Linked DNA regions of Homo sapiens. The protein of the gene in region 1 interacts with the protein of each later gene in a pairwise test. Each region holds a gene or a part of one and is shown on either strand. Other genes may lie near its edges.

Region 1 (8,824 bases):
TTGAAACCGCAGGAAGCTCTGATATAAGGTTACCCATAGATACACACACACTCACATATTTGTAGGACACACTTTATTTTATATATATATATGTGTGTGTGTGTGTGTGTGTGTGTATGTGTATGTATGTGTGTGTGTATATATATATATGTATAGCTTATCTACTCTAGAAATTGATCAGCCATTAATAATTTTTAAAGCAGCTGGCTTGAATTATCTTTTGTGGGATTTGCATGATAAGAAGTTTTCAGTATTTAATTTGAACAATGAGAAAAATATGGCTACAGCTCATCTGTTTGACAAATAAGTCTGTCTTGGGGCCAGAGGCATTAGGAATTCTTAACAACCAGTCTGCACCATTATTTCAGAAAAACCTAGTGCCTGATTTGCCCAGCTCTGCTCAGGGTTTCTTTCTTTCTTTCTTTTATTCTTCCTCTCTCTCTTAATTAAAAAAAGCCTCACACAGCCCTTTCTCTGCAAAGTGAAATGTTATAATTGCTCTTACCACTCATCGATTTCCTCAGGGAAAAACCTAGGACCATGGAACCTGAGGCCTTAAAGTTTAAAATAGTGAGTTTCGGGTTTTGTCGGGGAATTTTGAGTCTATAAATTTATTCCACCCCCAAATTTACCTGCTTTTCTTAGTCCTTGTTCTCTTGCTGGTCATCTGAGAAATCATGGCGCTGAGAATAGCTGAATTTCAAAATCGCAGGCCTGGGGGTATCCAAATGATTGCATAGCCCAACCTCAGGCAGATGATACTCACAAACCCGTATCTTACAGATGAAGCAGTTGAGGCCAGGAAGCTCCTGACTGGGTCAAGGGCACAGAGTGGAGTGGGGGCTAGAACCCAGCAACTCGTTTCTCCTACGGTACCTTTCCCATTAGAATCCAGTAGTCTAACTCCTTCTGTGCATAAAGATCACCTGTGCAGTGAAGCTCCGCTGGGGGCCAGCAAAGCCCTCCCACCAACATATTTGCATGTATGTTTGCTTTCAAGTCAAATCCCCTACCTTCCTCTTCCATATAAGCATTCCCATATAAAAATTCTGGAGTCTAAATAGTACCCTCTACTAATGTTTCTTTGCATTTGTTACAATGCAGGTTCCAGGCCTTCAGTCCAGAGTATCTGATCCCGCAGGTGTGGGGAGAAGTGAATTAACTTGACATTCCCCTTCCCCGCCCTGGCGTGATCCTGTGGTCTTTGGAGCACACTTTGAGAAGCTGCTCCAGCCAGCATATTAACTGAGACTTCTAGAATCCACTATGCCTTAATTCAGAGAAGCACTTCCTTTTTTGTAAAATATAAGACCTGGAGGATCTTGCCAGGGAACAGGTTTTAAAGAGTTTCTTCAGCAGCTCTCACTCCGATGTGGAACAGCCTCCTTTAATTAGCTGACAGATGGGGGTCTTCTGAGAAGTGTGGAAGGAACTGAGGAGTTTATTTAAAGGGTCCTTGGGAGGCTGAGGTGGGCAGATCACGAGGTCAGGAGTTCGAGACCAGCCTGCCCAACATGGTGAAACCCTGTTGCTACTACAAATACAAATACAAAAATTAGCCGAGTGTGGTGGTGTGCACCTGTAATCCCAGCTATAAAGGAGGCTGAGGCAGAAGAATTGCTTGAGCCTGGGAGGCTGGGAGCCAGGCTCCTGGGAGCCTGGAGGTTGCGGTGAGCTGAGATCAAGTCACTGCACTCCAGCCTGGGCAAAAGAGAGAGACTCTGTCTCAAAAAAGAAAAAAAAAAGGTGTCCAAGAAACCTGGGCAAAGAGCCTGAACTCCTCAGTGGAGGAGGCTCCTAGTGCAAGGAGTGGAAAATGAGGGACAGGGAGGGGAAGCATTGGTAGAAGGTGTACGGAACCTTCTTGGAGTTGAGCTTTGATCTTGAGGAAAACTGGCAGCTGGGTTCCACCAAACAACACACTCCAGCTATTGTTTCCTTGAACTTTGGCCTACATTAATGAAGAATCTGGGGCAAATTTTTCACAGGTTCTTCCACACTTTATTTTTAAATTTTTTGATAACTTTATTGAGATATAATTCACATACCGTACATACAATTCACCCATTAAAGTGTACAATTCACTGGTTTTTAGTACATTCACAGAGTTGTACAATCATCAGTACAATCAATTTTAGAACATTTTCACCACCTTAAAAAGAACCCACATATCCTTTAGCCATCATCCCCTCGCAATCTCCCCATTTCCCCAGCCCTAAGCAGCCGGTAAGCTACTTTCTGTCTCTACAAATTTCTCTATTCTAGACAATTTAGATAAATGGAATCATATCATATGTGGTCATTTGTGACTGGCTTTTTTCACTTAGCATAATGTCTACAAAATTTTTAATTATTGTGGATACATAATAGTTGTACATATTATGGGGTACATATGATATTTTGAAACTTAGTATAATGTTTTTAAGGTTTCTACATGTAGCATAGATGAGCACCTCATTCCTTTTTACTGACAAATATACTCCACTGGCTGCATATTCCATGTTTTGTTAATCCGTTCATCCAGTTGATTGACACTTGGATTGCTTCCACCTTTTGGCTGTTGTGAATAATGCTGCTACTTGTGCACTGGTTTTTGTGTGAATATGTTCATTTCTTTTGGGTATATACCTAGGAGTGGAATAAGTGGGTCAAATGACAACAAACACTATACTTGACTTCCTGAGAAATTGCCAGACTGTTTTCAGAAGTCTTCAGTTTTTTTTTTTTTTTTTATTAAGACAAACGGAAATCAATGGCTCTGAATTATCCTATAAGAGCTTAGTTACATACAGGTTGTTCAGGTCTAACTAAAGACTTAATGTAAGCAGGGTTTGGGAGATGCAAAGAATCAAGCTTGGTTTACAAAAATACCAAGCCCAAATACTTGATATTTTTATTGGCATAATTTTAAAGGTTGGGGTAGTGTTACATGGATTTGTGTTTATAACCAGAAAAAGAAACTCAGTTATAAATGTGGCCAACAACAACAACAAATGACTGTACAACAACCCTTAATTAGTAGCTTTGGAAAAGTTTTAGTCACCTTATAAAATGAGTAAAGCCTTTAAGATGATAAAATCATCCACGGATTTCAGTTATTTTTGCTATCATCTGTTTCTGCATGGGGAAAAAGGCTTTAAAAATTTTAAGAATAAAGTATTTGGAAATACTTTACAGTATTTAAGTATATAATATACACAGAGATGCACACAAATCATAACTGTAACTCCATGAATTTTCACAAAATGAACCTTACTCATGTAATTAGTACCCACATCAAGAAAGAAATAGTCACCAGCACCCCTTGAAACCCTCTTTCCAGTCATAATCATGTCCCTCCTCAAGGACCAGTGGATATCCTGACTTCTAACAGCAACATTCTTAGACACAAATAATACATTTTTTGTAGTAAGTTTCAGGTGTCAAGAACTGGCCAATGAAATAGATTTGTTTAGCTGAGAGAATTTCTTAAGACTCAGTCAGACTTACTATATTGCATGGTGTAATACATTGTTAAAAATTAAATACTGTTAAGCTTGTATATAAAATAGAGTATAACCTCAGCCCCAAGAAGCTTTTCATTTAACATCAGCAGCAATTTAAGAGCATATACTGTATGGCATTTTTAAAAACTGCATGAAGCCGGGCGCGGTGGCTCACGCCTGTAATCCCAGCACTTTGGGAGGCCGAGGCGGGCGGATCACGAGGTCAAGAGATCCAGACCATCCTGGCCAACATGGTGAAACCCCGTCTCTATTAAAAAATATAAAAATTAGCTGGGTGTGGTGGCGGGCACCTGTAGTCCCAGCTACTCTGGAGGCTGAGGCAGGAGAATCGCTTGAACCCGGGAGGCGGAGGTTGCAGTGAGCCGAGATCACGCCATTGCACTCCAGCCTGGGCAACAGAGCGAGACACCATCTCAAACAAAACAAAACAAAACAAAAAACCCCTGCATGAATCAACAGACTTTAAACACTTATTTTGAAAGACATTTCCCTTTTCCTCCAGAATTTGAATTTATTCATGGGAGCAGTCTGTAAAGGAAGTCCTAGGCACCATTAAAGACAAGTGCTTTAATAATTTAAGAAGTGTGCATGTAAACTTGGGCACATTGACAGTATATTACATTGGGTTAAAGTGTAACGACCAATATAAATCCAGCTTCCACAAGCAGAGCATAAAAACTGACACATACTTTTCTTGGTTTATTGGGTAGGAGGATGTTAAATACCTTATGGTAAGATAAGCTTTCTAATACTGGAACTGACTAACTGCAAAGAACACTGCTCTGGTTCTTATCAGGAAAAAAAGTCCATTATAATCATTTTAGGCACGAAACTTTCTACGCATTAGAATTCTTCCGAGGTGAAAAGTATATTATTAAGGGAATTCATTTTGCAAAGAGGAATCTTTTTTTTTTTTTTTTTTTTTTTTTTGCTCTAAAGATTTTTCATAAATTACCAGAGTAGTTTAGGATTTTATTAGGATATTTCCTCGGAAGTTTGGGGGTTCCGTGTTCTATCAGGTGATGCCTAATAGATGCCTGATATAGCTCATAAGTCAATGAGAGGACAGAGCGTTACACTTGCCATGCACTCCGGGCTGCCCCGGGTACTTTCTTTACGGATGCTGGATGCTTCCAAGGTAACCCAGTCCTTTCATTCCCGCTCCTACCGAGATGCCGGGAAAGCACTCCCGCGCCGATGCGAGGTAGGCACGTCCTGCGCCCTGTGAGCGGTAACTGCGCTCGGCGTCGTCCTTCCCGAAGTCCTTGGCTTACACCTCTTCCCATCGAGTCGCCCCAAAGCCCCTCCTCCAGGCATCCCCCTCCTTGGGCAAAAGTTTAAGGGCGGGCCCCCTTCTCACTAAAGCGCGCCAGGGCCTCTCTCGTGGCTGGACAGAGAAGGCTCCTCGCTCTTCTCTAGCCCCAGCTCGGCGGGTGGGGACAGACGCTGAGACTCTCGGTGGCCGGCGCTGACGTGTCCTGGCCGTGAGGTGCCTCCCACCTCGAGGGACTTACTTAAATATTTGGGGCAGGGCACCCTCCCAGGACCCCAGGAAGCCGGCGCAGGTTCGGCGGGGACCCTGAGGCTGTGGCGCACTTGCCCCGGCACAGCGCGAGCACGGAGTGCGCGTGGGTGAGAGTGAGGGTGCGCCCAGGGCCAGCGGGAGGCGGACCCGCCAGGCGGCAGGTGGGTGCGGCCGGCTGGAGCCAGGGCAGCGGCAGCGGCGGCAGCAAGTGGTTGGGCCGTGCGCATTTCCTTCCCTCCCCCTCGGCCTCGGAGCCCGTCTGCAGTGCCCAGTGTGCTGCGCCTTCGGCTCGGCTCCGCTCCGCGTCCTCTGCCCGCCGCAGCCGGCCGCACCCGGCCGCACCCTTCCCCGTCCGTCCATGTCCCTGCCCGTGGTGCTCCCGGGCTCCTGCTGCCCCGTGGCTGGGCTTTCGGGTGGGCCGCAGGCCGGGGGCCCGGGCGCCGCTGCCGCCGCCGCTCAGGAGCCGCCGCTGCCCCCGCTGCGGCCGCGCTGGCCCCGGGGCGCGCTGCAGCCCCCGTCGCGGCCTCGCTGCGCGGCCACCGCTGCTGCCGGGGTGCTGGCCGCGCCGCCGGCGCTCTCCTCCCGCCGGGCAGTCGCCGCCGCTGCCGCCGCGGCCCCGGGCTCCGCGCTGCTGCCCGCCCGCCCGCTGCTGTCACTTGGGCTGCTTCAGCTGATCTTGGGCTGCTGCATGGTGGCGCTCAGCTTCGGGGCGCTGTCGCTGAGCAGCTCCCCGCAGGTGAAGAACTCGTGCCCGTTCTGGGCCGGCTCCTCGGTGAGTACCGCGCGCGCGCCCCGTTCGCCCGGTCATCCCGGTGATAGGGGGCTCTGGTCGTTCCTCTCCATTGCCCCTTTGTTGGCCTCCAGGGCTGCAGTTGGGGGAGCCTCACGCCACCTGAAGTTTTTGGAGGCTGGAGAAAAATGTTCCGCGACGGTCGAGTTCAGGGGTGAATTGGGTTGCACCTGGGTAGTGTCTGTTGCGCGCAGGCTGAAGAATTTTATTTTCCCTGTCAAGCTAATAGAATTAAAGACACCCAGCTCTTTGGGAGATTGGAAGGACAGGGTGTGGGTGGCAGGAAAGTGGGAGGAAAATGATTAAACTTCTTTTGGTTATTGAGTATTTGCTGCACTGACAACGTCTGTGCTGGGAGGGCAGGGATTTTGATCATTTTTGTTCACTGATGTATCAAGAATGCCTGGCACATAGTAGGTGTATTTGTGAGATGGGACAGTTTGACTGGGGCACATCGCTTGTTTTATTCTGCATTAAGACACACGTAAATGTGAAATGTGTAGGGTGGCTCGACCCCCAGACGAGTTCAGGAGGTAATGAGGGGGTGTGTGTGAACTGGCGCTTGTACCTGGTCATTAAAGGAAGGCCTTAACCCCACTGGGTTCCTGGAGCCATGCAGGCTGCTGTGCAGAATTCAGTTTGTGAGAACCGGGACCTGTCATTATGGATGAGCTGGCCAAAAGTCCTGGAGTGCCCAGCAGCTAGCTAGAGATGTCTGCTCTACAGGACCCACTCCTCCCTCCTCCAACCGGGAACGCTGAGCCTGGGGCCAAAGAGTGCCCAACTTCAGAGAAAAGCTGCTGCCAGCCAGTATCTATGGACACCGGGTGGCCACTCCCCCCTGCCTCCTAACAATCTCACAATTTCCAAGGCATCCAACCCCTTGACGTTTTCTGGGTGTTGAGAGACTTGGAAACACATCTTTGTGGAATGACTATGGAAGATGAGCACAGTAAATAACCTCTCTTTATATCTTTTTTTTTTAATTTTTAATTTTTATTTTTAAGGGACAGAGTTTCCCCATGTTGCCCAGGCTGGTTTCCAACTCCTGAGCTCAAGCGATCCTCCTGCCTCGGCCTCCCAAAGTGTGGGGATTAGAGGCATGAGCCACCACAGCCGACCGTAAATAACCTTTCTATGAACTCACTGTGTAAATCTGAAAGTCTAGCAATGCTGCTAGGTTTTAGTAAGATGTATAATCAGTGTATGTCCTGAATGGTAAGAACGGCTTTTGCAGTTTCACACATACTGCAATTCAAGACCAAATTGAAAAAAAAAAAAAAGGACTCGAAGAACTAATTGAACCCAAAGTAATTGTTTGAATAAGAACATTAAGAACGTTAGGTTCCTTGAGACTCGCCTGAAATTGTATACTTCATCCAGTGTCAGTTTGCTTTCCTTTTGAAATACTTTCATGTTGAATGAACTTATTGGGGTACGTGCTGGACTGTGGTGAGTGAAAGCCATGATTTGTGCCTCATGAAAAAACGCCACCCTGGTGGCTCTGCCTGTGGGCTCTGCCACTGGCCTCTATGAGTGTTCAGGAAAACTACAGAAGGATGGATATTCCAGACAAGGTAGGAATTAGACCCGTTATGCCACCTATTCTGTTTGTCTGACTAAGTCCAGCCAAATGGTGGGTGCATTTCATTTCTCTAAATACCACGGGCCAGTAATGATCTTGCATATATTTTTAGGAATTTGCTCTTTATAAAATCATAATCTATTGTCTTCTCAAACATAGCTAGTTTAGGATTCTTAAAAACTATTTTTTGTCTTCTAAAATTAAAAGCTGAAATCAGTTTACTATTGTGAATCATTTCAGAGGTAAATGCACTTAGATATCGGTCAAGCCACAGTTGAATTTGATGAAGTACCAAAAGAAAAGAAAAGAAAAAAAAAGGCCTTCCACCAGAAGGTGAAGGTTAATACTCCTGGTCTGCTGGCTGGGTATGTCCTTGTCTCCAGGTCTGGGCACACCAGAGGAGAGAAAGAAATCAGTGATTTGGAACTGACAAGTTCTCTGCTATATGTCTTTCCCCATTCTTCCCCATACTCTCCAAACACAGGTCTATATGCAACTCTATAACTGTTGGCTATTCCTACTTTTTGTGACTTGTTCCTGAGATTGACCTCAGAATTTGCAAAGTGACAACAGAAGCAGTAGATACTGTATTTATAGAACAATTAAATACAAATTTAAGAGGATGGCTTTAGGCACCATGACTCTCTTGGTGCTTTAGGGGAAAAAAGCCTTGTATCACATGTTTTGAATTTATGCATGTGACAGAGGTTGTTTTTTAAAAACCTCGTGTTATGGAAAAGTTTACATTTATGCAGTATACGATGAACCCACATATACCTTTCACCCAGCTTCAACAATGGTTTCATCTGCACCCCCTTCCTGGGCTCTGCTGCTGGCCTTGTGTCTTCTGATAAACTTCAGAAGGATGAATATTCCAAGCAGGGTGGGAATTAGATCCTTCGTGCTCCCTAGTCCATTTGTGAGATTAAATTCTCTTATTGTTTGGAAGCAAATCTCAGGTGTCACATTTCATCTGTATATATTCCAATGTGTGTATTTTTATCACAAGAAAATATAACCAGCATAGGATTGAGTGGGCAGTCCGAAGAACCATTCCCTTCAATTTTAAATCTTTTATTATAAAAATTTAAAAACTCAACAAATGTAGAAAGAAGGGTGTAATGATCCCGCATTTTACCCTTCACCCAGTAGCTATCAACACATGGCCACTTTATACCTAACGCTGCTCCCCCTTCCTAACACCCCTGGATTATTTTAAGGCAAATTCCAGGTATCACAACTTCAGCCATTAGTATTTTAGTATGTACTTATAAAAGAAATGGGCTTGATAGGACATTGTAACTAATTCAAAGACAGCTAAACTAAGGTTTCTATAAAAAAAAAAGTTGGAAGATTATGAGTTGAGAACTGCAGAATTAAAAAAGAACACAGCTTTGACATATATTCACATGCCATAC
Region 2 (8,769 bases), on another chromosome or scaffold:
TCCAGGATTTTTTAAAAACCATTATGCAGCCCAGTGAAGATGTGCTCCAGGCAGCTCTGGTCCACTGGTGATCAGTGTTTAATTCTGGACAAGAGATCCCTTCAGGGCCCTGGGGTTCTAATTCTTCCGTCTTCTCACAGACAGGAAGGAGGGCAGGACCAGGGCAACACAGGCAAGGGAAGGGCACAGCAGGGCACGAGGAGAAGAGTCGGTGGAGAGCGCAGCCGGGCAACACGGACACAGAGGGCAGGGAGGGAGCAGAAAGGGTAGTGTGGGCAGCGAGTGCCCCCTGCTGGCACTCCTGAGCCGAGAGGACCACAGCTCCCACCAGCCAGGCTGCAGCCCGAGCCACTGCCCAGGCCTGGCCATCAGGGGTGGGCACTCACCGCGCACTTCATACTGGCTGTACTCCAGCGGCTTCAGCACGGGCTGTGACAGGCAGAACCAGGGCAGCTGTTTGCGGAGTTGTGGCAGCAGGTAATGTGTGAAGAAGCCCACGGCCCCAGCCAGTGCGTACAACACGAAACCCAGCACCGACTGCAGGAGGGAGAGGCCAGAGACTCAGCTGATGGGAGCAGGCCAAGGGACCACAGAGGGCCACCTGGCACAGGCCGGGGAGGGGCTGCCCACGGCACTCAGATTGAGCAGGCTCCCGCCAAGACAGCGAGAGGCAGCAGCGGCCCATGCCACACAAACCTTCAGGGCAATAAAGACGGTGCTGGCGCTGATGGCGAAGGTGAGCACGGCGATCACCACACACATCACCAGGTCGGAGTGCAAGACCTCACGCTGCAGGGCCAGGAGAGACATTCAGCTGCCCGGCCAGGAGAGACACTCAGCTGCCCAGCAGCCCAAGCTGGACATGCCCCTCCCAGGAACCCCAGGACCTGTCACCACCTCCCCACAGACCCCCACCCCCCGCCCCCTCACCACCGACTGGCGCATCTTGTCCGGCAAGGGGTCCGGGGGCTCGGCCCGGGCTGTCTCCAAGCTGCGCTCCTCCAGCTCAGGGAACAGCTTGCTCCGGATCAGAGACCTGGGGGTGAGGAAGAGTCAGGAGGAGGCCGCCCCTCCTTCCCCCCGGCCCCAGTCACGGGCACATGCACAGACCACAAACCCCTACTGGGCAGACACAAACACACGACCCGGAGCACACCCACCAGAGCACGGTGGGGTCGCTGCTCTGCCGGCTCAGGTGGTAGGACAGTGCCACCAGGAGGCCACAGAAGACTGAGAAGAGGACAGGGACGTGCTGCTCTGGCCACGGAGTCTGCGGAGAGAATCCATGCTGGTCAGGGGAGGTGAGGTAAGCATGGGGCCCGGGCTGCCCCCGTGTGAGAAGCCACTGCTGAGCCCAGTTCACAGCCCCGCCCCAACCACCCTTACGCACTGCAGCATGCCCCCACCTCGCAAGCCACCCCTACCTTGATGGCCCCAAGGCAGAAACCGTAGAGCAGGGCAGCAGCCAGCAGGCTGCGGGAGAGGCTGAAGACTGCCGTGAGCGGGCTGGTGGCAGCTGTGTGGAAGGGAGAAGTACAGCCCAGCTCTCACTTGCAGGTACCCCACCTCAACCCTAGCCGCGCTTCCCCTCAACTCCCAGAGGCTGGCCTCCCTGGAAAGGCACCCCCAGCCCATTGTTCTCTGCTGCCCCAAGCCCCAAGCGGCCTTTAGAGCTTCCAAGATTCTCAGATATAAACCACTTGCCTGGGGAGGGAAGGAGAGGGGAGAAGGCAGAAACCTTGAGTCTGCAGTACAGACGCAGGAGAAGGTTCCGCAAGGGTGGAGCCAAGGACCCAATCCGAGGGCCCTCCTGGGCCTCCACACGGGCCCCATCCCTGAGCCACCTGTGGGCATCATACCTGTGCCCCCGAAGCCGTGCATATCTATTTGCTCCAGCAGGTACATGAGGCAGGTGTTGACCTGGGGCAGGAGGCCCAGGAGGAAGACGAAGGGGAAGCACAGGGTGAACACTGGCAGGGAGGGGACACGAAGGCCTGGTCAGCCTGCTGGCTTTCCGCGGCCCACCCTCGGGGACTCACTCTCCTGGGCCACCTCATCCCTGCCCCAGCCTCACCAGTGGCCACGTCTCGGGCACAGAAGAAGAAGGAGGCAGAGAAGAGCGTGAGGCCGTAGAGGGAGACAGGTGGGAAGGGCTGAGCTGAGCCCAGGGCGTCCAGCAGCCAGATGAGCAGACAGCAGATGCAGAAGTAGACAGGACGGCTGTACGCGATCACCCAGTTGTGGCCCTGAGGGGTCAGCCCATGAGGAGCTGGGTCTCCCCGACTGGCCACACCTCTGACACATGCACACACTCAAGGGCCCCAGGCCTGGCCCTGGGTCCAAGCTGGAGAGCCTGGCCAGGTGGGGGTGATGGGGGTGGTGAGGGAGCCCCAGCCCTCCATACCCTACCCTCCTCCCCACCTGGTCTCAGCCCCTCCCGGGGCCTCCTGGCCAGAGGCGCTGCTCCATGGGTACTCACGTGCATGGGGGACGCCGCATCAGGCTGCACGCTCTGGAAGAGACAGGGCTACGTTGGCAACTAGAGCCGATGCCCACGGGATGGTCAGAGGCCCCAGACCTGTTCAGCTCCACCACTAGGCAGTTATGAGTGACCAGGTCAGGCCCCCGAACTGTCCTGAGCCTCAGTTTTCTTGCTTGTAAAAGAGCTGGCCAGCTCTAGGGAACCTTAGACAAATTATCTACCTTTCAGCTTATACTCCTTAAAACTGGAGTTGTGGGAAGGGCAATCTTGGGAAAAGTCGGGTGGGGAAGGAAACACAGAGAGCCCGGCCTGACCTTCAGCAAGGAGTACTGGCAGGAGGCGATGACCAGGCAGAACTGGAAGACCCAGATGTCAGTGAAGAAGCCCTTGAGCAGCAGCAGGTAGCCCAGGAAGGCCACAAGGCTGCTCAGGCCCACGCCGAAGATGTTCTCCAGCACTCCCCGCGTCCTGCAGGGACAGCCTAGTCAGGGCGTGCCCGTCTTGCCTCACCTTCCAGTGGGGCAGTGGGGAAGATGGATCTTGCCCTAAAGGCCCAGCTCTGGGACTGTGCCCATGCCAGACCCTTGTCCTCTGAAGATGTGAACACCTATAACTTTGCGACGACGCGGCCCGGCAGCACCTGCTCCAGCGACCATTGTATTGCTCTCTCCTTCCCAATCTTTGCCTGCTCTGGACATTGAGGGCTGAGAGCTCAGGGTGCCATTACTCCCGGGATTCATCCATCCCCAGCTGAGACTGAGTTAACTGCACGTGGCTACATCGTGCATGCTGCCTTGGGCGTGCCACGCTATGCACACAGGACCAGCACCCAGTCCCTGTGCCTAGAGAAACCCAGATGGACGGGAAGCCACATGGGCTCTAGGCCCAAGTTCTCTACACTGGGTAGAAGTCATCTGACTTCTCTATTGGATTTTCTGGGACTCTGTGTCCCCTCTGAGAAATGGGAAAAGTGAGATAACTGGTCTGTGAGCTTTTCTAGGTTACAGCACTCGATTTTCAAATCAACAGAAGCTAATAAAAAAAAAGTGAATAGGATGGCCGGGCGCGGTAGCTCACGCCTGTAATCCCAGCACTTTGGGAGGCCGAGGCGGGCAGATCACAAGGTCAGGAGATCAAGACCATCTTGGCTAACACTGTGAAACCCCATCTCTACTAAAAAAAAAAAAATACAAAAATTAGCCAGGTGTGGTGGCGGGCACCTGTAGTCCCAGCTACTCAGGAGGCTGAGGCAGGAGAATGGCGTGAACCTGGGAGGCGGAGCTTGCAGTGAGCCGAGATCATGCCACTGCACTCCAGCCTGGACGACAGAGAGAGACTCCGTCTCAAAAAAAGTTTTTTTCAGCAGGACTTTGGAATAAACAGATTTAATACAGCACCACCCACTTGGCCACCCCTTTACACCACAAATGAACCATAGAAACCACCACTGCAGACTCCAGCCAACGACAGGCCCTCAGCTTCCCCCGAGTCAGGCTCTCTGCTGCCATGACTGCCTCCACAGGTACAGAGTCTGGGGAGCCAAGGTCCAGGGGCTTTCCAAGAATTGGGGGCCAAGGCTGCGGGACACTCACCGGTCCAGCAGAGCCAGCAGGGCAAGCCGCTCATAGCGCACAGAGGTCCAGCGGCCAGGGAGAAGCCAGTACTTGTAACTATGCTGGGCCCGGGGTGGCGCTTCTTCCATCAGTGTCTGCTCCTGGGATTCGTGCAGGGAGTCCTGGTCCAGCAGGTCAAACTGCAGTCCCCACAGCCGCGGCCGTCAGCCCCGCCACCCCCCACATGGTCTACTGTTACCCCCCTTCAGCACACCGGTCTGGTTGACCATTTCCATCAGCACATAAAGGCCCCTGTCTAGCGGCCCTGGACCCCACCAGAACCCTTCATCTGAAAGGGCTCCTCCTCTCTCCAGGTTCCCAGGACGTCGCCCAGTGGCTGCAGGGGCTGCCTAGAGTCACCCGCTCCCACGCCTGTCTTCCCCAGTCAGGCAAACTCTCCCACCTCTTCTGAAGCTCAAGGAAGTCCACTTGTCCTTTGGGACCTGGCACAAATGCTACCCTCCTCCCAGACAGGGCCTGTCACTGTCACTCTGACTACCCCATCCGAGCGTGCATGCAGGGCTCAGCCTTGAGGACATGCCTAGGTGCCAATGCCAGCCCTGAGGCCCTGGGCACATGACTTGACCTCTCATTTGTTGTATCCTTCACTCAACAAGCACTTGTGGGGCCCCAGCTATGGGCCCGGCCCTGCCCTGGGATCCAAGGATAAAATGGCGAGCCAGAGGCACGCAACCCTTCCCTCTGGAGGCGGCCGCCGGCCACGCTTCCACCCCACATGGTTACAAGGAAGAAATGAACCAGAAGCGGGCAGGTGGGAGCTTCTGGGGGCTGCCCAACCTATCTGTGGCCTTGAGGGTCAGGTGCCGGGTACCCTTTTATGATCATTCTTTAAGCTCTAAGATGGCGTTTCACGCATTTTTAGCGCTTCTGGTGTTAATAGATTAAGTATACAAATTTACTGTCCAAACTGTGATATTCTTAAGAGTGACAGAGCGCTGGTAATGAGTATACTGAGACAGGAAGTGTTAACAGAGAGCACCCCAGCAGCCACACGTGCACAGTGTATGCAGGGCAGCACAGTCATCACAGGGTCCCTGCTTGCTAACAGAACACTGCCACTTCCGCAAGTATCATCATTAACACCCATGGCCCCTGTTCACTGTGGGACCCTCCAGAGTTAGGAATGTACTCCAAAGGAATTCGTAGTAAGCAAATAAATGACTTCTCCAGCCATTCAGACCCAGAGTCTCTGCCAACATCAAAGATCAGGACAGACACAGTAGGGCCCCTGGAGCGCTCACTCAGCACTGCCCGTCCCTCCTGGGGCACCTGGGCAAGCTCTCTATGCAGGCCGGACTCAGTGATCTGCCCGCCCCGTCACGCCCCACTGGCACGGCCCTTCCCCGGCTGCTCCTCACCTCCGGGATCTCCAGGGGCACCCGGCGCACCTGCATGCCCTGCAGAACCACAGGCCTCGGCTGCAGCAGGTTCAGGCCGCCTGTAGCCTCAGGGACATCAGCCGAGTGGAAGCTGGAGGAATGCGAGTGTCGGTCCCTGTGAGAACAGCAGCCATCAGGATCCCCCCACGGGCGAGCCCTGGGGCTGGGTGGGGTCGAGGCCGAGGCCAAGGCCAGGCAGGTAGGGCTGTCTGTGCCGAGACCAACCAGGGCTCAAGGGACAAGTGCTGGGGTCAGGTGGCAGAAGTGCCTCCCTCCCAGACCCTGGCACGAGTGTCGAGGCTGTGCCCTGGGCTTCCTAGAAACTTCCTGCCCGGAGTGTCATGGAGCCAGGGACCCCAGGAGGTCTGTCCTTTGCTGCTCCCCATCCTCTCCCTGCAGATCTGAGCTGCCCCTGCCCAAGCCCAGCAGGAAGAGAGCAAACTCCAGGCTCAGGGAACTTCCCAGAGATGCAGGCCACCAAGACAATGGCTTGGGAGGCCAGGCTTGGGAACTCACCAGGCTCCATTAGCTGTCTGCTCCCCTTGCTGCCCTACAGGGTTCTCGTAGCCGCCTCCAGCCAGGCCAAAGGTGTAGGAACGCCGCACACCTGGGGCAGGGTATGGGAGATGAGGCAGCGTGGCAGAGACAGAAGCACCAAGGCCCGGCTCACGTGGGCACCAGACCCATCAAATGAGGCAGAACCTTGTGCTGTGTCCTCTGAGAGGGCAGCCCAGCCTCTGGAGAGGAAAGGGCCTACAGGTCAAGAGCCTGGGCGCGGCAGTCACCTGTCCTAGCTTTAGATCTCCCCTGTACTGTAAGCTGAGCCTCTGTTTCCTCATCAGCAGAGCAAAAGATGACAGAGACACCGTGCCTCAAAGAGGCTGCAAGGATGATGTCTGGCAGCATTAGCAGTGTACCTGCCACAGGGCCGAGCGAGCACCACTGCTAGGAGGACTCAGGCTGTTGGGGGAAGGCGGGGAGGCACTGGGCCACCGGGCTTGGGAAAGGCTCACCGCTCTCATCGTAGAAATAGTGCACAGCACCCTCAGAAGTGTCATCAAAGGTGCAGGCCTCATGCACATTGGCACCGGCCCGGGTGAGCAACAGTGAAGAGGCGAAATGCAGCGCAGAGGGCAGCGTCAGCGCCCGGGAGTGGGAGGCAGCCCGGCCCCGCTGAGCTTCCTGCAGGCTGCTGGAGAGGGTCAGCCCCAGGTCAGCGCCAGCTAGAGCTTGCGGGCCCTCCCCGGCCCCCGGTGCCCCTCGGCACAGCTGGCAAGGTGCTCACCTGGGCGGCGAGCCCATGACAGAGGCTGGAGGGGTGGGGTTGCTGCCTGCATTGTGGCGTCTCCGAATGGCCTGGGTCCGCCTCACACTGCTTGAGCGGTCCCGCCTGCCAGTCTCCTCGGCCGCTGCCCAGAGAGAGGCCCCCAAGTGTAAGTGACAGATGCTCAGACAAGGCTGGGGGAGTAAGGTTGGGGACGGTGTTCCGCCAGGGAGCTAAAGGCCTAGTACAACCACGCCCCGGCTCTGAGGCCCAGCCAGGTCACACAGCCCCATGCTCAGTTTCCTTACTTGCAAACAAGGATGACACTGATCGGCCCTGCCCCACCCCACTGGTGGTGGGAGGATGAGTGTGGATGATGAGAGTCCTCAGGGGACAGAGACTCAGGTGCTAATCAAGGATGTGGAGCCAGGTGGCTGAGCCCCATGTCTAAGAGGTTTGGCAGACAATGTCAATCACCACCAGGCCCACGTCCATCTGCTGCCTACAACCGAGGCTGAGCTGACACTGACCAGGTCCATTCTTACCTGCCCTTTGCCCAACCCCAAGCCCGTAGCTCACGTCCCCCAGCCCCTGCCTCTAGAGCAAGCACTCACCTCCCCCCACAGCACCTTCCTCCTGCAGCTCCCCCCGCCAGCCGGGCTGGTTGGCAGCGGGTCCCCTTCGCGCCTCAGCAGGCAGCACAACAGGCTCACTAGCAGCCTGCTCCACCCCAACCTGGGCCTCCAGCTCTGCCTTGCAGCCAGCCAGTGGGGGCCTCAGAACATCACCCCCAGCCCCATCCATGCTCAGCACACGGGCATGTGTTTTAGCGCTGGCGGTACTAGGCGTCCGCTGGGTCCCATATGGCCGCTTGGGGGGCACAGCAGTTCCCTCCTCAGCCCCATGGGGGGCCCTCCGCTTCCGGGGTCCCCCTGCTGCACCCCGGGAGCTCTCAGGGGAGTAGCAGGAAGTAGAAGAGGAGCTGTCAGTACTGTAGCGGCGCTGCGATCGGAGACTGGAGGCCGGGCTCAGTTCACTGCCCTCACTAGTGTCTTCATCCTCAAAGAAGCCCCCACCTTCAAGCAGGGGCCGTCGAGGGGCACGGCCAGGTGGAGAGTGTCTTCGCAGGGGTGGCTGCCGTTTGCTAGGCCGTAGCAGGGCCAAGTCCTTGGGCCGCACGACCAGGAGCGGCTCAGCCAGGCCCGGTGGCGTCCCTGCTCCAATGACCGTGTCAAAGGAACGCAGCGTGTCATCTGAGGGGACCCCGGCGTCTGGTGAGGCAGGCAGCTCAGCCTCAGAGGGTGGGTCTGTGTCGCTGCCCTCAGGGGCTGGCCCCCCTGGGGGGCTGTCCAGATGGGTGGAGTTGGTCTTCTCACTCTTGAAGCTGCTCAATGTCTCCCTGTCAGTGCCGCTGAAGCAGGAGTCTGAGGAGCCGGCTTTCTGGGGCGTGGGCTCCCCTGAGCCCCGCCGGTCAAGGGGCTGATAGCCACCTGCCCCCCTGCGTTGTTCCCGTCGACTGCTGGTCCTCACCAGGGCCCGGTCAGGCTGGGTCAGGGTCAGGAAGCTCTTGCTCAGCTCCTGGCTGAGGCTCCCCTTCAGCAGGGGGCTCATGGGAGTGTCAGCCATGCTGCTCCCACTCCAGGGCGCTCCATCTCCAGCCAGGGGAGAAGGCTCTGAAGAGTCTGTACTGGCAAGAGAGGGGTCTGGGACAGCCCCTGGAGGCGTCTGGGGAAGGTCTCCAACTGCCAAAATAAAGGGAAACAGAAAATGAAAAAAGGGTTTTCTGCAAAACAAACTAGTGGTTAAGGGAGGTCTTATGCCCTGTACTTTCCCTGAGAGCCCAGCCACAGCAGCACACTGGGGAGGTCCCACAGAGGAATACAGAGGAGACCCAGGATGGAGCCAAAGTTGAGGGGATTCAACAACGAAACAGCTGGTCTAGCCCACAAGCCTCGGCCCCATAAGGCCCACGCACTCAGTTTCTCCTGCGAGCTGAGCTTCAGCATCTCT
Region 3 (5,577 bases), on another chromosome or scaffold:
TGAATCATGGCGGAATGTGAAGCAGAAATAGGCACGTCTTTGGTGGCGGGAGCAGGAGGAAAGGAAGCAGGGGGGATGCCACACACTTTTAAACAACCAGATCTCGTGAGAACTCTATCATGAGAACAGCACCAAAGGGATGGTGCTCAACCATTCACGAAGGATCCACCCCCATGATCCAGTCACCTCCCACCAGGCCCCACCTCCAACATTGGGGATTACAATTAAATATGAGATTTGGGTGGGGACACAGATTCAAACCATATCACGAATGTCTAGGGAGGACCCCAAGTGAAGGGGGCACAGCAAAACATAAAGGCCCTGAGATGGGGCCAGGCCTTGTACCCTGCAGGGCCAGAAGGGAGTCCCGGGGAGCTGTATAGCAGAGAAAGGGAAAAATGAATTCAGAGAGGAGACAGAGACCCAGTCCCCATAGGGACAGGCCAGGTACTTAAGGCCTGCATTATAAAATAATAATAATAATGTCTCCCTTCTCTTCAACCACCATCCCCACACCCAAAACATGTCATCTCCACAGTAGCAAGCATTCAGAGCAGTTATTTCTGGGTAACTTTCTCATAGTGTCGCTGTAGCTGAAAGGAAACTTAGCCATCTTCCCTACCTCTGAAGATTTAAGATAAACTCCTACTTCTCCTGTGTCTAAATGTCTACGAAATTTTGTGACCTGCTAATCCTCCTCAACTTCTTTTTATAATTGGAGATAAAAAGGCATATAACTATGAACACCTGGCAAGAAGGAAGGACACGGGAGAGGGGAGAAGAGAATTGCAAATGTTAGTTATATTCTTTCAGGAAGGCCTATGTTCCAGTCTTACCAATTATTTGTGAACTTATTTTTTATATTTTCCTGATGCTGAGAACATTTAGAAGTTATAAAGAGACAGAGATTCAACGTATAAAGCAAGAACGATAGCTGTTGAGGGAGTAGAAGCCAGGAGGAAGTCGTGTCCAGTAAGCTAAGGGAAAAAATAAACAAGAAAGTGTAATTAACTGTATTCAATGCTAACTGGGTAAGTAGGATAGAATGTATTTAACAAATTGATGTTATTGGTGACTACAAAAACCAGCTTTGTTGAGGTGGGTTCAGGGGACAATGACACGAAAGGAACTGAAAATAGCGAAAACAGACAAGAACGTTTGACATATTTATGGGTGTAGCATGTGCTTTAATTATTTCTTAGAAAATGGGCAGGTTGTAAATGGAAGAGGCTGAATATTGGTAATTGTAGAAGTTGGTGATGGGTACATGAATTCATTATATTAGTGTCTCTGAGAAAAGCTCATGTTTTTTTTTTTTAAGCAAGCACATTATAAGAAGCAATAGATGTGCCAGGGCATATGAACATCAGATGAATGGAAGTTATCCTGTGTTTTTCTTTTTAACTTAAATTCATCTTTTTTGAATTAAATCTTAATTGATACATCCTGTATATGAAATTTCACTTTATGGTATAAATCAGAGGCTTCCTATCCTATAGGAAAGATTCATGCTTGTTTTTCAAATTCAGTACAATTCTCCCAGTGATTTCTAGGAAAGAATAAAGAGGAGAGGAGAGGTAGACATCAGAATGTAGAGAGGCAATACTGTGTAAAAATGAAAAACAAAAAAAAAAACTTTATTTCTATTTTCCCAGGCTGCACAAATCTGGCTTTGATGAAGAAACTCAGAAGATCCTGATGTCTGTGGAAGAAAAAATTCCCCATCTGACCATTTCACATGGACCTTGGATTGACGAGGAATACAAGATCAGGGGTGTGCTCCTCTGATGGGGAACACCCTGAAGTAGTCGTCTCACAAAGGCTTTCCTTGGCCACAGTGGGACCTTCACCTGGCACCTCTATCCTGTAATTGCACATCATGGCAGCAGGGCTGTGATTTCAGAGGTACTCCCTAAGTGTTCTAGCAATATGATTATGGAGTGTGATTCAGTGTACATGCTGATTGTCTTTGCCTCGGTCCTATATCCCCTTGTCTTTAGAAATCCCATCCTGCCTTGTGATATTTAGAAGCACAAGTACGTTAAACAAGTGCTAAACGCTCTGGAAAGCATGGCTTTATTTTCTTAATGGATGTCTTGGTGTGTAGGAGCATGCATTTGTAGGCACCACAATCCGGATACTTCTGACACAGAAGTGATGCTAGAATGTGTCTATAGATTGTATTGCTAGCATCCAGACTTTCTAGTTTGTCCAGATTTCGATTTGATCAATTTTCTTGTCCAATAAAAAAGCATTTCCAAATCTCTACTTATCCTTTTATATATGACACCCCAATAGATTTTTCTAAAAATTCAGTATTATTCAAATATATCTACACTGTTTATATTTCAAAACACAATATTAAACACTTCATTGTCATAATTAAACATTCCCTAGTTCCCTACGGTAAATTGCTGATGCCTTATTGGCCTGGTCTAAAATTTTTATTACAAAACATAAAAGCAAGATGATGCAGAAATTGGATTATATAATCAGTTATCATTAGATTGAAATATAATCTCAGATTCTCCTGAGAATGAGAAATTGTGGACCTACTCTTGGATCTCTTGGCACACTCCTGGATTCTTTGGATATTTGGGAGGCTGAATTTTCTATAATCTTCAATGTAGAGTGCTCGCACTTACTTGCTTAATTTTACTTCCAGGTTTTCCATATGTTTAAGCAATTATGAACTTTTTTGCCCAATTTTCTATTTGCTTTTGGCCTTTTCCCACAACTTTAAAGAATGCTGGCATAGGCCAGGAGTGGTGGCTCACGCCTGTAATTCCAGCACTTTGGGAGGTCCACGCGGGCGGATCACCAGGTCAGGACTTTAAGACCTGTAAACACGAGTTTACACTCAAGACTGGACAAGGGTTTCCATAGGACAAAAGACACCATTGTGTGGGGGATTCCAGTGGAAAGAAGAACCAAGGAGTTTGCCACGGCCATGTGGGTGAGAATCTTGTGTGTGGGCCTCATTTGATGCTCAGTCAAGATGGGAAAGATATTATGGAAGAACAGAATGGCATTGGCCAGAGTCCCCACCCCAGTCTGCAAAGGAAAGATGGTTTTTATGGCCACTTCCCCTATGGTTCTTAGGACATTGTTCTGAAAAGACATGGGGAGGGTTTCCAGGTGGTCTGAACTGAAGAGCTGGCTATGTCTGTGATGAGATCAGCACTCTTAGCTTTTCATCTTGGAAAGTTATTTTGGTCTTTCCTTTACCCGAAATAGAGACACTGTCATATTCCACAGAAGGGGCTCAACATGGAGAACATACCCCTGACACCAGTTTCACATTTGACTGGTTTTTGGGTATTTATTTTCATTTGTTATTTGTTCTTTCTTTTGTTTTAGAGTCAGGGTCTGCTTTTTGGCTCAGTCTGGAGGGCAGTGGTGCCATCATAGCTCACTGCAGCCTTGAACTCCTGGGTTCAAGTGATGCTCCTGCCTCAGCCTCCTGTGTAGCTGGGACCACAGGTGCACACTACCGTTCCTTTTTTTTTTTTTTTGAGAGACAGCCTCACTCTGTTGCTCGCCCAGGCTGGAGTGCAGTGGCACAATCTCGGCTCACTGCAGCCTCCGTCTCCTGGGTTCAAGTGATTCTCCTGTCTCAGCCACCTGAGTAGCTGGGATTTCAGGCATGCGCCACCATGCCCTGCTAGTTTTTGTTTTGGTATTTTTAGTAGAGATGGGGTTTTGCCATGTTGGTCAGGCTGGTCTCAAACTCCTGACCTGAGGTAATCCGCCTGCCTCGGCCTCCCAAAGTGCTGGGATTACAGGCCTGAGCCACCGCGCTCAGCCCATTTAAATATTTTTTAGTATAGACGGGGTCTCACTATGTTTCCCAGGCTGGTCTGGTACTCCTGGCTTCAAGTGATCCTCCCACTTCAGCCTCTCAAACTGCTGGGATTACAGGCACAAGCCATCGCACCTGGCCCATTTACTTTTTTTTTTTAATCTCTCTTTACTATTGTTTTTTAAATCTCTCTTTACTATTGTTTTTTAAATCTCTCCCTTCCCTTCCCCTCTTTTCTTTCTTTCCTTTTCCTTCCCCTTCCCTCCTTTTTCTCTCTTTCCTGCAATGCTGCAATCTTGGCTCACTGCAGCCTCTGCCTCTGGGTTCAAGCGATTCTCCCGCCTTAGCCTACTGAGGAGCTGAGATTACAGGCATCTGCCATCATGCCCGGCTAATTTTTGTATTTTTAGTAGAGACAGGGTTTTGCCATGTCGGCCAGGCTGGTCTCGAACTCCCAACCTCAGGTGATCCACCCGCCTCAGCCTCCCAAAGTGCTAGGATTTCAGACATGAGCCACCACGCCCGGCCCTCTTTCACTTTTCTAAAACAGTACGCCACTGCATTCCAGCCTGGGTGACAGAGCGAAACACGGTCTTTTAAAAAAAAAAAAAAAAGAAGAAGAAAAAGAGAAGAAAGGAAGAAAAGAGGAGGAAAAAGGAGAAGAAAGAGGAGGAAAGGAAGAAAGAAAAATAAAGGAAGAAAGGAGGAGAAAAAGGAGGAAGAGGAAGAAGAAAAGAGAGGAGGAGGAGGAAGAAGAAATCAAAGTTCTCCAGTCTCATAAACCTGCACATGCAGAGAATCTGGAAAAACTAAAGCTGGGTTGTTCCCCAACCAATGGACATTCTATGGTCCCTTTTCTTCCAGATAATAAGGCCTTCTTTGTAACTGCTATGCAGACCTCTGGCTTCCCATCCAGCATACCTGAACTAAGACTTATTTTGTCTTACACTTTATACTCACTGAAAATCAAGAATCCCATGGTGAGCTATGATCACACACTGCAATGCAGCTTTAGTGATAGAGCAAGACCTTGTCTCTAAATATATATATATATCCCACAACACTCTAAATATATATATATATATATATCCCACAACAACAAATATTCCAGCCACAATGTCAGTATGACTGTTGAAGAACCTGACCTTATGATTGACATGTCATTTTCTCGATACTTTCAAGATTTTCTCTACCTTTGGCCTTTATTAACTTGACTCTGATAATGTTCGGGGATACTTTTCTTTTTTCTAAGAAAGGGTCTTGCTCTGTTGTCCATGCTGGAGTGCAATGGTGCGATCTCGGCTCACTGCAACCTCCACCTCCCGGGCTCAAACGATTCTCCCATCTCAGCATCCCGAGTAGCTGGGACTACAGGTGCATGCCACTATGCATGACTAATTTTTGTATTTTTAGTAGAGATGGTGATTTTGTCATGTTGGCCAGGCTGGTCTCGAACTCCTGACCTCAAGTCATCCATTCGCCCCGGCCTCCCAAACTGCTGGAATTACAGGCTCACGCCACTTCATGAAATGTGTTGTAGTGGCTCTGGATTCTGTATCGTTCTGAGAGGTTTTTTTCATTGGTTTGTTTTCGTTTTTGTGTGTTTCCGTAGGCAAAAAAGTTGCCTGGACAGGTTTACAAAACATATCTCCCCATCTCCCTGCAGTCAGCAGCTATCGGTATCTATGCTAAGTTCCTTCAAAGACTCCTAAGAGGTCTCCATGGACCTCTGAAGTTTAATAGTCAATGATTGGGTCAGAGCTTACTCAGAAACC
Region 4 (8,769 bases), on another chromosome or scaffold:
AACCAGACACAGACACCACAACAGCACGTGAATTTCGTTTGGCATGAGCTGTTCTGAAAACAGTATACTTAACCAACAAATTACACCCAAGAGATGTTTTACATACAAACTTACATGTAATTAAGTTTAGCTTCACTTGAAAAATCTGAAGATTTGGCCATGGTGGGTCCAAATTCCCATGTGGCAACAATAAGGTGAGCCAAGTGGGGACACTGCCTTTCCTTTTGATGAAGTGTGTCTCTCCATGATCCTCACCACTCCACAAGGCTACCATGCACAACACATCCAGCTGGTTTCATTTGTGACCTGTTGGCTCTGGAGGTATTGGAGTTTGAGACAAGTCCATGTTCAGGGAGTTAGAAGTTGTGTCCAATCATAAAGTGATCTCTTGGTTTAGGGTCGTATTGCCATGCTCCTCTACTTATGACAACCTCTCCTAGTTTCTCATGCCAACAACTGCTTCTTCTTCCTGTAATCACCAATCCTAAATATCACCTACATACCTGAACTACCCCAGGGAACTCCTGCAGAGGTATCTTCTGGCCTGGCAAGCTCCTATATGAAGTAGCAAAATTCCAGATCACATGGCAGAAGGCACTGAGGATCTCATCCACAGACTGATGAAATCTTCATTTCCACACTTACTTCTCTTTGAAGATAAATACTCCTAAATTTCTGAGTTCTGATGATTTAAAATGATGTTTCTCAAACTTTACTGTGCATCCAACATATGTGAGGATCTTTTAAAAATGCAGATTCAAATTCAATAAGTCTGGTGTGGTGCCTGAGATTCTGCATTTCCAACAAGCTCCCTGGTGATCCTGATGCTGCCTGGACTGTGGACCACACTTTGAATAGCAAGGAGTTAGAAGACTTACGAAGGAAGAAAGTTCTGAGATGAGAGTTATCTGAATGAACTAGGCCTCCAAGACTTGACTTTCTGACATTTTAAAAGTCCAAAATGTTAATCTTTTAGTATCCTGTGTCAATTAATATCTGATCTATATAAATAACAACCCTTCATAATGGTCCATGAAGAAGAAATAGATGGTTCCTTTAGCCATTAGGCATTGGTTATTGAATATTCACTATGTGATCAATACTGGGCATTACACAGGGGCATCTGCCAAGTTTCCATATATTTAGAGTGCTTAAAATCTAGGTGGCAAGAAGACTAATGGAAAACAATAACTAGTGTACCACCTAAAACAGCAGATGATTAAGATTTTAATTGCTACAAACGAGTGATTCCCAAGAGGGTAGCATATCAGCATCTGGGTGGAAGGCTAAACACACTGTCTCCCAACTCCTCCTATAAGATACTTACTCCACCCTTACTCTTACTGTCAATCACTGACAAGGGAAACTACACTGAATTCCAGGAATGGCATATTCTTCAGAAGGATGAGGTGGGAAAAATGACAAAAACCACTGTTTTTAAATTGCATACAGAAGGGCAATGGAGACCTGGGGCCTGAAAGAGTAAGTAGAAGTGGTGGGCATTCCAGGTGGGAGTTGCTTCCTGTGGTAAAAGTACTGAGGTGGAGATGAGTCTAGGGTATTTATGGGACAGGAAGAAGACCTGTCTAATTAAAGTAAACTAGAGTGTCCCACTCACCATCACCCTATTTTTAGTGGAGGAAGCATGGAAACTATCTCCTAAAAACCTGATGACCACCTGTTAAAAACACTGAAGAGATATTTCTTTACAGAAAGGCTAAACTAGTTTACCTCTCAGATCCTTTCCAATTTTTCCTCAAGTGCAGAACAAAATTCTGATTCTTCTCCAACCCATAATTCTAAATTGAATCACTTGTCTTGCCTGCTGTTGACCATGGCAGACAAGTGAAGAGAATGTGGATGTGTAAAACTCCCTATAAATTAAAAAAAAAAAAACCTAAATCACTGCATTAGGTTAAGCATTCCATTGCTGCTTAGCATCCCCAGTTCTCTAAGACTGTTCTCATAGGGCTATTTTCAACTCTGTCATCAATCATCTTTGTTACTCTTCCCTGAACCCTTTCCAAATTATCCTCATCCTTCTTATATAGGCAAGTGATGAATTACACTTCAGGTTTTCCCTGAGCACTCCATCTAAAGGAAGTCTCAGTTACACAACATTCTCTGCCAAAGCCCACCTCGACAAAGCACTTAATGTACTTCCAACTAGGTTTTTTCATTTGTTGCTTATGAAATATTTAAAATATACATTTAGAAGTTCATATTGTTAAGAAGTTAATATAACAGTAGCCCATATACCAAATATTACTTCCTTAATTTATGGTCAATGTGGACATCTAACTCTCTAATAAAAAAAATTCATAGTCTAAGATTGTGGCATATGGTTTTACTTGCTAATAATTTTCCCTTCCTTGTTTGTCTTTGCCATGATTCACTGTGGCCTAAGTATATTACTGAGGTATACCATACATACCAACGCCCAGATTTAACAAACATTAATATTTTTGCCTTGTTTTGCAATTATATACTTATTTATTTATTCATATATGTGTGGCCTGTTTTCCATTAGATTCTGTCTTATCTGGACAGAGCCATGTCTGATTATTAACCTCTTTTATACCCATTACTTAGCATAGAGCCTGGCATATAAGGTTCAATGAATAATGCATGAATGACTTTTGTCCTAGTATTAAATAAGGGCCATCACAATGGATGACTTATTAAACAAAAGACAATGATTCCATCTTTATTAAAAGTCCAAAGAGGGGAAAAAGGAAATGAGTCTTTATTAAAGAATGGGGTTTACATTTAAATGCATGCTATAGCTGGATATCGGACATTAGGATGAGTTAGTTGAGCAAGGTACAGAACTTCCCTTCCCTAGGGGCTCCTTTCCCTTGTTCCCTGAATAGCACATATATCTGCCTAGATAACAGTGATACAGAAGATGAGCTCTTCTAGCTCGTGTAGCTTAGAGATGCCAACTCAATGGCTTAAAGAAGGAGAGAACAAAGGAGGAGAAGGAGAAAGAGAAGAGAGGAAAAAATGGAGGGAGGAAGGGGTGGGGGCCTATACGGAGGGTATCCAATACCACTATAAGACCAGAAGAAATCATTCATTTTTTCTAGATTATGCCAATGGCAATAAAGATTATGTCCTGAAAACCTTAGAGTATGAAGTCCATTTGGATAAAATGAAGTGAAGCCTAAGGCAAAAACTTAAGAAAGATCATATCCAACTGTCAGAGAAATCTGACAGTTTTCTCTACCTCCTTCAGCCTGTACTCCCTGCCACCCAATATCTTCATGCAAAATCCTAAAAGTCTGGGTCCCTCCTGCCATGGTTCTCTACATGCTCTCAAATACCAAATATACACTCGTGTCTACTCCCCATCAAAACTTACTGGGTCTAAGTTCTATTACTTTGAGCTCTTATTCTTCTAGCAGGTCACTGAGAGATACTATGCTTATGATATAAATGGCTGTCTATTACTGAAAATATCACTTCCTTAATTTACAGTCAATGTGAACTTCCAACTCCCTAATAAAAAATTTCATAGTCTAAGATTGTGGCATATTGTTTTATTTGTTAATAATTCTCCCTTCCCTCTCTGTCCTTGCCACAGTTCACCACGGGCTAAGCATATGACTTAGGTATACCACTTGATATAACACAAATCATTTCTAATCACTGTCATAAGGAAATGTTTTTCTTGCTCCAAAGATATCTTACTCCACAGATAAAATATTACACGAGCACCTTTCCACTATGCAGCTAGCATATGTCAGCTTGGGGAAGCAGTCTTACACTCACTGCCCATCACTTTGCACAGCAAACTCACAGACACAGGGGCCACAGTTTGGTTGAATCCATAGTTTCCACTGTTTCTTTTTGTATTTCCTCAAGATCAGAGGGTATTACGTCTTCTCCATGAAGTGGGTAGCATGTGGATTGGCTTCTTTCTAAGTACAACTCCTTTTCTTCATGAAGCCATCACCTTATCTGTACCTGAGCCCAGTACCCTGTCAGTTCTGTCCCGAGCAACTTTTCCACTCTCATGAATAATGGTTAACCAAAAAAAAAAAAACAAAAAAAAACTCTTCCTATAGCACAAGTTTTCAGTGACAAATGAACAAAAGCATCACCGAGCACTCATTTCTGAACAAATGCCAAAAGCTGATTCATTCTCTGCATGACATCGGTGGTTTCATCCAACCATAAAGTGAAATATCTGCTAGCGTGCACTTGATAGTAATCGCTCTTCCACACTCCACTCCACTGATATTATGCCACAGCCAACCATGTTATTTGACAAAGGAGTTTTGTCAATAACTTCTGGTTTCTCTCTAAGGATAATGTTTGTCTTTAACTTTCCAGCTGATTTTCCAAGTGTCTCTTCAATAATATGACTCATACTTATTTTGCTACAAGGATCCTTTAATGATGCTAATAGAATTATAATCTCTTACCTACCTTTAGCCATATAATACATTAATTTTATAAAGGAAAGCATTATTGTGTGCCTGTCCTAGAAAACTTCAATAGTATAACAGAGAAGCCACTGTGCTTTGTTCGAAAATGACACAAAAACATCCATGGCTTCATGCCACTATTGGACAAAGTTTCATAACAGGCAACGATTACGGATTCATTTGGTCCTAATGGGGATAGCAAGTCCAATAAAAAATAGTTTTGAGATAGTCATTGTCATATTTCCATTTGCACTTTTCAATTTCAGCTACTGTTCTGAAATTGTCACTCTCAGAGATTCCCTTGTCTCTATACATACATATTCCCATTTTATATGCAGTGGGATTCAGTTCTCTAAGTATGTTTATGGTATTCTGAAATGTAGCATTTACAGTACTATTTTCATCACTATTTTTACACTTCAATGAACTACTTTTGAACCACTTATCTAGTTTTGTGAAATGGGAATACAATTTAAGAACAGCAAAAACAAAAAATATTCTTTTAACAAATAAAAAATAAGTAAATGATATAAAAATTATATTAACAAACATGAAGTGGACCATTAACAAAATGTAAGCTATACGCACTCACCAGTGCAGTCTTTGCAGCACAAATACAATCTTAAATATTATAATAAGTTTTAAGAACATAAGGGGATGTCTGCTGAAATCATAATTAAATGGCCTATCTCAAGGCCCTACAGGCTTTGCAACACCCACACCACCCTTCTGGTCTCATTTCTGACTTCCCCCTTGTCATTCCACCCCATCATGCTGATCTTGCAAATCTTTGAACATATCCAAACACATTCTTTTCTCAGGGCCTTTGCACTGGCCATCCTGCAACTCTATCCCTCAGGTATTTGTATTAAGCAACTTCTCTTACCTTCCGTTAACTCTTTGCTTAAGGTCTCTTTCTCCATGAAGCCTACTCAACCACACTTACCCTGTCCTACTTTCTCTTTCTTCCAAAGCACTCATCTCCTTCTAGCATCATATATAATTTAGTTATTTGGTTTATTATCTGTCTCCCACCTCCCACCTGCCTGCCCCCAACAGAATGAAAACTCTACAAGGTCAGAGATCTTTGTTTTATTCATTGATATATTCCCAGCACCTAGATCAGATACTAACCCGCAGATGGAGCTCAATACATATTACTTGAATGAACAAATAAATGAATGGATGAATGAATTAAATTTTTTCATTGCTTTTCCCTTCTAACCACCAAACTGCCTATGGATCTTACTTTGAGAATTAAAAAGAAAATGATAAGCCATCAGAGGTTTTTAAGCAAAAGAATTATATCAATAGAATGGTATTAAAATAGACAAGGTCAGGAGATGATTTAAAGTTTGGAGAGGCTAGATCCAAAGAGTTTAGTTAAAAAGTCAACCAATGAAAGAGATAAGGAAGGGCATAAATTTCCAATTACCAGGACTTCTTAAGTGGTTTATTTCAAACCTACAATTCACATATCCATAGATACATTATCAATGTTTATCTATACATACATTGCATACACACACACACACATATACGTTGAACAAGACTAGAAGAAGCTAAGGACATTTCTCATCATATGGATATAATACATATACAAGCTTATCACTTGAGTCATAGTTAGAACAGCCATAAATCCTAGTTTTCCTGGCACAGTCTCAGTTTATACTTGTTGATCTAATGCCCCTTCCAGTTAGTACCATATTTTACTCTCAAAAGTGTCCTTGTCTGGATTTTTTTAAATTACATAGTCATCCTACTTATAAAAAAGATACATAGGCCGGTCACGGTGGCTCACACCTGTAATCCCAACACTTTGGGAGGCCGAGGAGGGTGGATCATTTGTCAGGAGTTCAAGACCAGCCTGGCCAACATGGTGAAATCCTGTCTCTACTAAAAACACAAAAATTTGCTGATGGTAGTGGTGCGTGCCTGTAATCCCAGCTACTTGGGAGACGGAGGCATGAGAATCGCTTAAACCCAGGAGGCGGAGGATGCGGTGAGCCAAGATTGCACCACTGCACTCCAGTCTGGGCAACGGAGTGAGACCCTGTCTCAAAAAATAAATAAATAAATAAATTTCTTCTTATTTAGACATGCTGACCAAGCTTTTGAGGACTTCAGTGGAGTGAGTTTGGGAAAGGTGACAGCCATAATTAATTATAACATCCACTGGCCAACATAGTAAGTGAGCTGTGTTACAAACACACAATTCTTTGGTAAAGGAGCATAGCAACTACTGCAGAAGCAAATGCCACAAACTTCATATATCTAAGTTGGGTAAAGAATCCAAACCCTTGCCAGGTCACCTGCACAATCTCAAACCCCCAAGAGAATTTTCATGTGGTGAACAGACACAACAGTTCTCCCTCTCTGCGACCCCTCTGTATGAAAAGCTGAGACCCAAACCAAACACTGGAGACACAAGGGAGTACAGAAAACAAAAGCCCTCCTATTATCCTCATGGCCCTGAGAGCTTGGAAACTAAGAGAATGTGGAATCAAGTCTTCACAACAACACTTGTGTTCTGGAATCTCAGTAAATATCCAAGATCTGGACCAGACACTAGATCTTGAAACTTGCATTCCTACCTCTAAGAGCCATGGTAACCACTAGGTCTGCAAACAGGTTTTGTAGAAACTGCTCTCCCAAATCAAAGGATTTGTCCCAATTAGTGTCAGCTCTAGATATATGGACAGGTGTTAATTCATATTGTGCTTGAAGACAATAATAATATGGGCTTACAGCCACGGCAGATGCTTAGTAACTTAAGAATAAAACTATTTTATTCACTATGTGTGTAAATAGATGACAAGCAATTATCTCATTCTCCTATCTTCCTTCCTCCTATTTCATTTTTTCTTATATATTTTTCAGGTTTAAATTTTTCTGATTTTCTAGCTTTGCATTTAATAAATAAAAGACTGAAATAAGGCAAGACTCAAAATCTGGTGTCGGAAGAGGGGTGATGAAAAAAATTCAGGATTCCTTAATATCTAGGGTGACCAGATAATTATCACCCAAACCAGGACACTTTTACATGTGAAAGGGGGTGCTTTTGATAATTAAGATAAACCAACAGGAGTAAACTGGCACTGTCACAAGCAAAGCAGGGCATCTCGTCACCTTTCTAATCTCTCATTCATATCCTGATACAAAAGGCATCCTGTGTGTAATGAAGCAACCTCTGCCTCTGTTAAATCAATCAAACTTCAAACATAGTCCTCCCTCTTTCAGGCCAGGCCTGGCTTTTGATAACAGAGCTGGAAAGGTTTTCACCCAATGCTGCCATTCCCTATCCAACACACCAAGCAAAACTGGTTCCAGTTTTTCCCAAGAAAGTAGTCAGCAATGCACAAGAATGTGGATCCAGGCCAGGCCCACAGCAAGCCCCAGGCGAGAAGCCTCTGGTTTCTCTTAAAGGAACACTTCACAACAGAGAAAGCCACCTGGTTAGAGGTTACACAGATACCAACCATATAGACTTAACAAGCATTTTGAATGCAAGATCATTTCATTGATGTGTAGGCACATATTAAAACTGGGAAGATCCCAAAAGCCACCTCTCCTGCAAAACACATTCATCTAGGAGAAAACGCCAAAGCATCTGTCCTCAACTACAGGTAACAACCTTGGTTTCTTTGCCTTTGGCTGAAATCAGTGTTGCAAAAGCCTTTTAAAAGAGTAAGAAAATATAGGTTTTTCTCCCAAGATCACATTGCCCAAGTGAAACAGAACCAGTGCTTACTTTTATTTTTTGTCTCCTGTTCAGAGGGGTCAAACATTGCTCATAATCTTCATTAAATTTAGTCCTGTGGCTGGCAAATGTTAATTTACTGGAATATTTTCCTTCACATTCATAAAGAGGGAAAACTAGCTTTGTGATCTGGTTGCAATCTACACAACACATAGATAATCCACAACAGTGGTAGGCGCAGAAAAGCTCCAGCTGGTTTATCTCAAATGTTCAGAATGATTTTGATTTCTTTACCGACACCACAGCCATTCATAAAGATTCATTGCCAAATGTTGCCCAATACCGTGATAGAGGCGATGGTGAAGCGAATGTCTTAGACTGGGAAATCATCATGGTGCCCAAACCTCAGAGTCTGCGGCCAAATGGTGGGGATTTGGAAATCACCTGTCACGGAGATGGTGAAGGAAACTGGATTCAAACTAATGAAGACTAAAGTCTTTCCAGCCAGAAGACGGTTTGAGTCCAAGGGGCCATTTATATACAAGAGCTAAGAAAGGTGCAACTGATTTTCCCCCAGAAGCAGCACGATTATTTTTAAGTTCAAAGACATTTTTGTTAATAAACTGCTTCACACAA

The links.
Region 2: the proteins of ENTREP1 (region 1) and PCNX3 interact in binary tests that used the Homo sapiens proteins (3 or more experiments, as listed by UniProt).
Region 3: the proteins of ENTREP1 (region 1) and EPN1 interact in binary tests that used the Homo sapiens proteins (3 or more experiments, as listed by UniProt).
Region 4: the proteins of ENTREP1 (region 1) and HECW2 interact in binary tests that used the Homo sapiens proteins (3 or more experiments, as listed by UniProt).

Annotation. Positions count from the first base shown.
Region 1 is NC_000009.12:69,319,921-69,328,744, forward strand, and holds the start of ENTREP1 (endosomal transmembrane epsin interactor 1), read left to right. Parts: upstream 1-5,294; 5' UTR 5,295-5,389; coding exon 5,390-5,803; intron 5,804-8,824. UniProt on the Homo sapiens protein: Functions as an activator of the E3 ubiquitin protein ligase ITCH in the ubiquitination of the CXCL12-activated CXCR4 receptor. Thereby, triggers CXCR4 endocytosis and desensitization, negatively regulating the CXCL12/CXCR4 signaling pathway.
Region 2 is NC_000011.10:65,617,672-65,626,440, reverse strand, and holds part of PCNX3 (pecanex-like protein 3), read right to left. Parts: coding exon 8,735-8,769; intron 8,502-8,734; coding exon 7,374-8,501; intron 6,905-7,373; coding exon 6,781-6,904; intron 6,688-6,780; coding exon 6,509-6,687; intron 6,103-6,508; coding exon 6,012-6,102; intron 5,611-6,011; coding exon 5,475-5,610; intron 4,236-5,474; coding exon of another isoform or gene 4,197-4,235; coding exon 4,075-4,196; intron 2,951-4,074; coding exon 2,797-2,950; intron 2,513-2,796; coding exon 2,480-2,512; intron 2,247-2,479; coding exon 2,075-2,246; intron 1,971-2,074; coding exon 1,860-1,970; intron 1,517-1,859; coding exon 1,425-1,516; intron 1,271-1,424; coding exon 1,161-1,270; intron 1,037-1,160; coding exon 931-1,036; intron 815-930; coding exon of another isoform or gene 790-814; coding exon 697-789; intron 538-696; coding exon 387-537; intron 1-386.
Region 3 is NC_000019.10:55,705,123-55,710,699, reverse strand, and holds the end of EPN1 (epsin-1), read right to left. Parts: 3' UTR 1,789-5,577; coding exon of another isoform or gene 1,656-1,788; 3' UTR 1,167-1,655; downstream 1-1,166. Other genes in the region: NLRP9 (NACHT, LRR and PYD domains-containing protein 9), read left to right, coding at 1,656-1,788. UniProt on the Homo sapiens protein: Binds to membranes enriched in phosphatidylinositol 4,5-bisphosphate (PtdIns(4,5)P2). Modifies membrane curvature and facilitates the formation of clathrin-coated invaginations. Regulates receptor-mediated endocytosis.
Region 4 is NC_000002.12:196,582,706-196,591,474, forward strand, and holds part of HECW2 (E3 ubiquitin-protein ligase HECW2), read right to left. Parts: intron 1-8,769. UniProt on the Homo sapiens protein: E3 ubiquitin-protein ligase that mediates ubiquitination of TP73. Acts to stabilize TP73 and enhance activation of transcription by TP73. Involved in the regulation of mitotic metaphase/anaphase transition.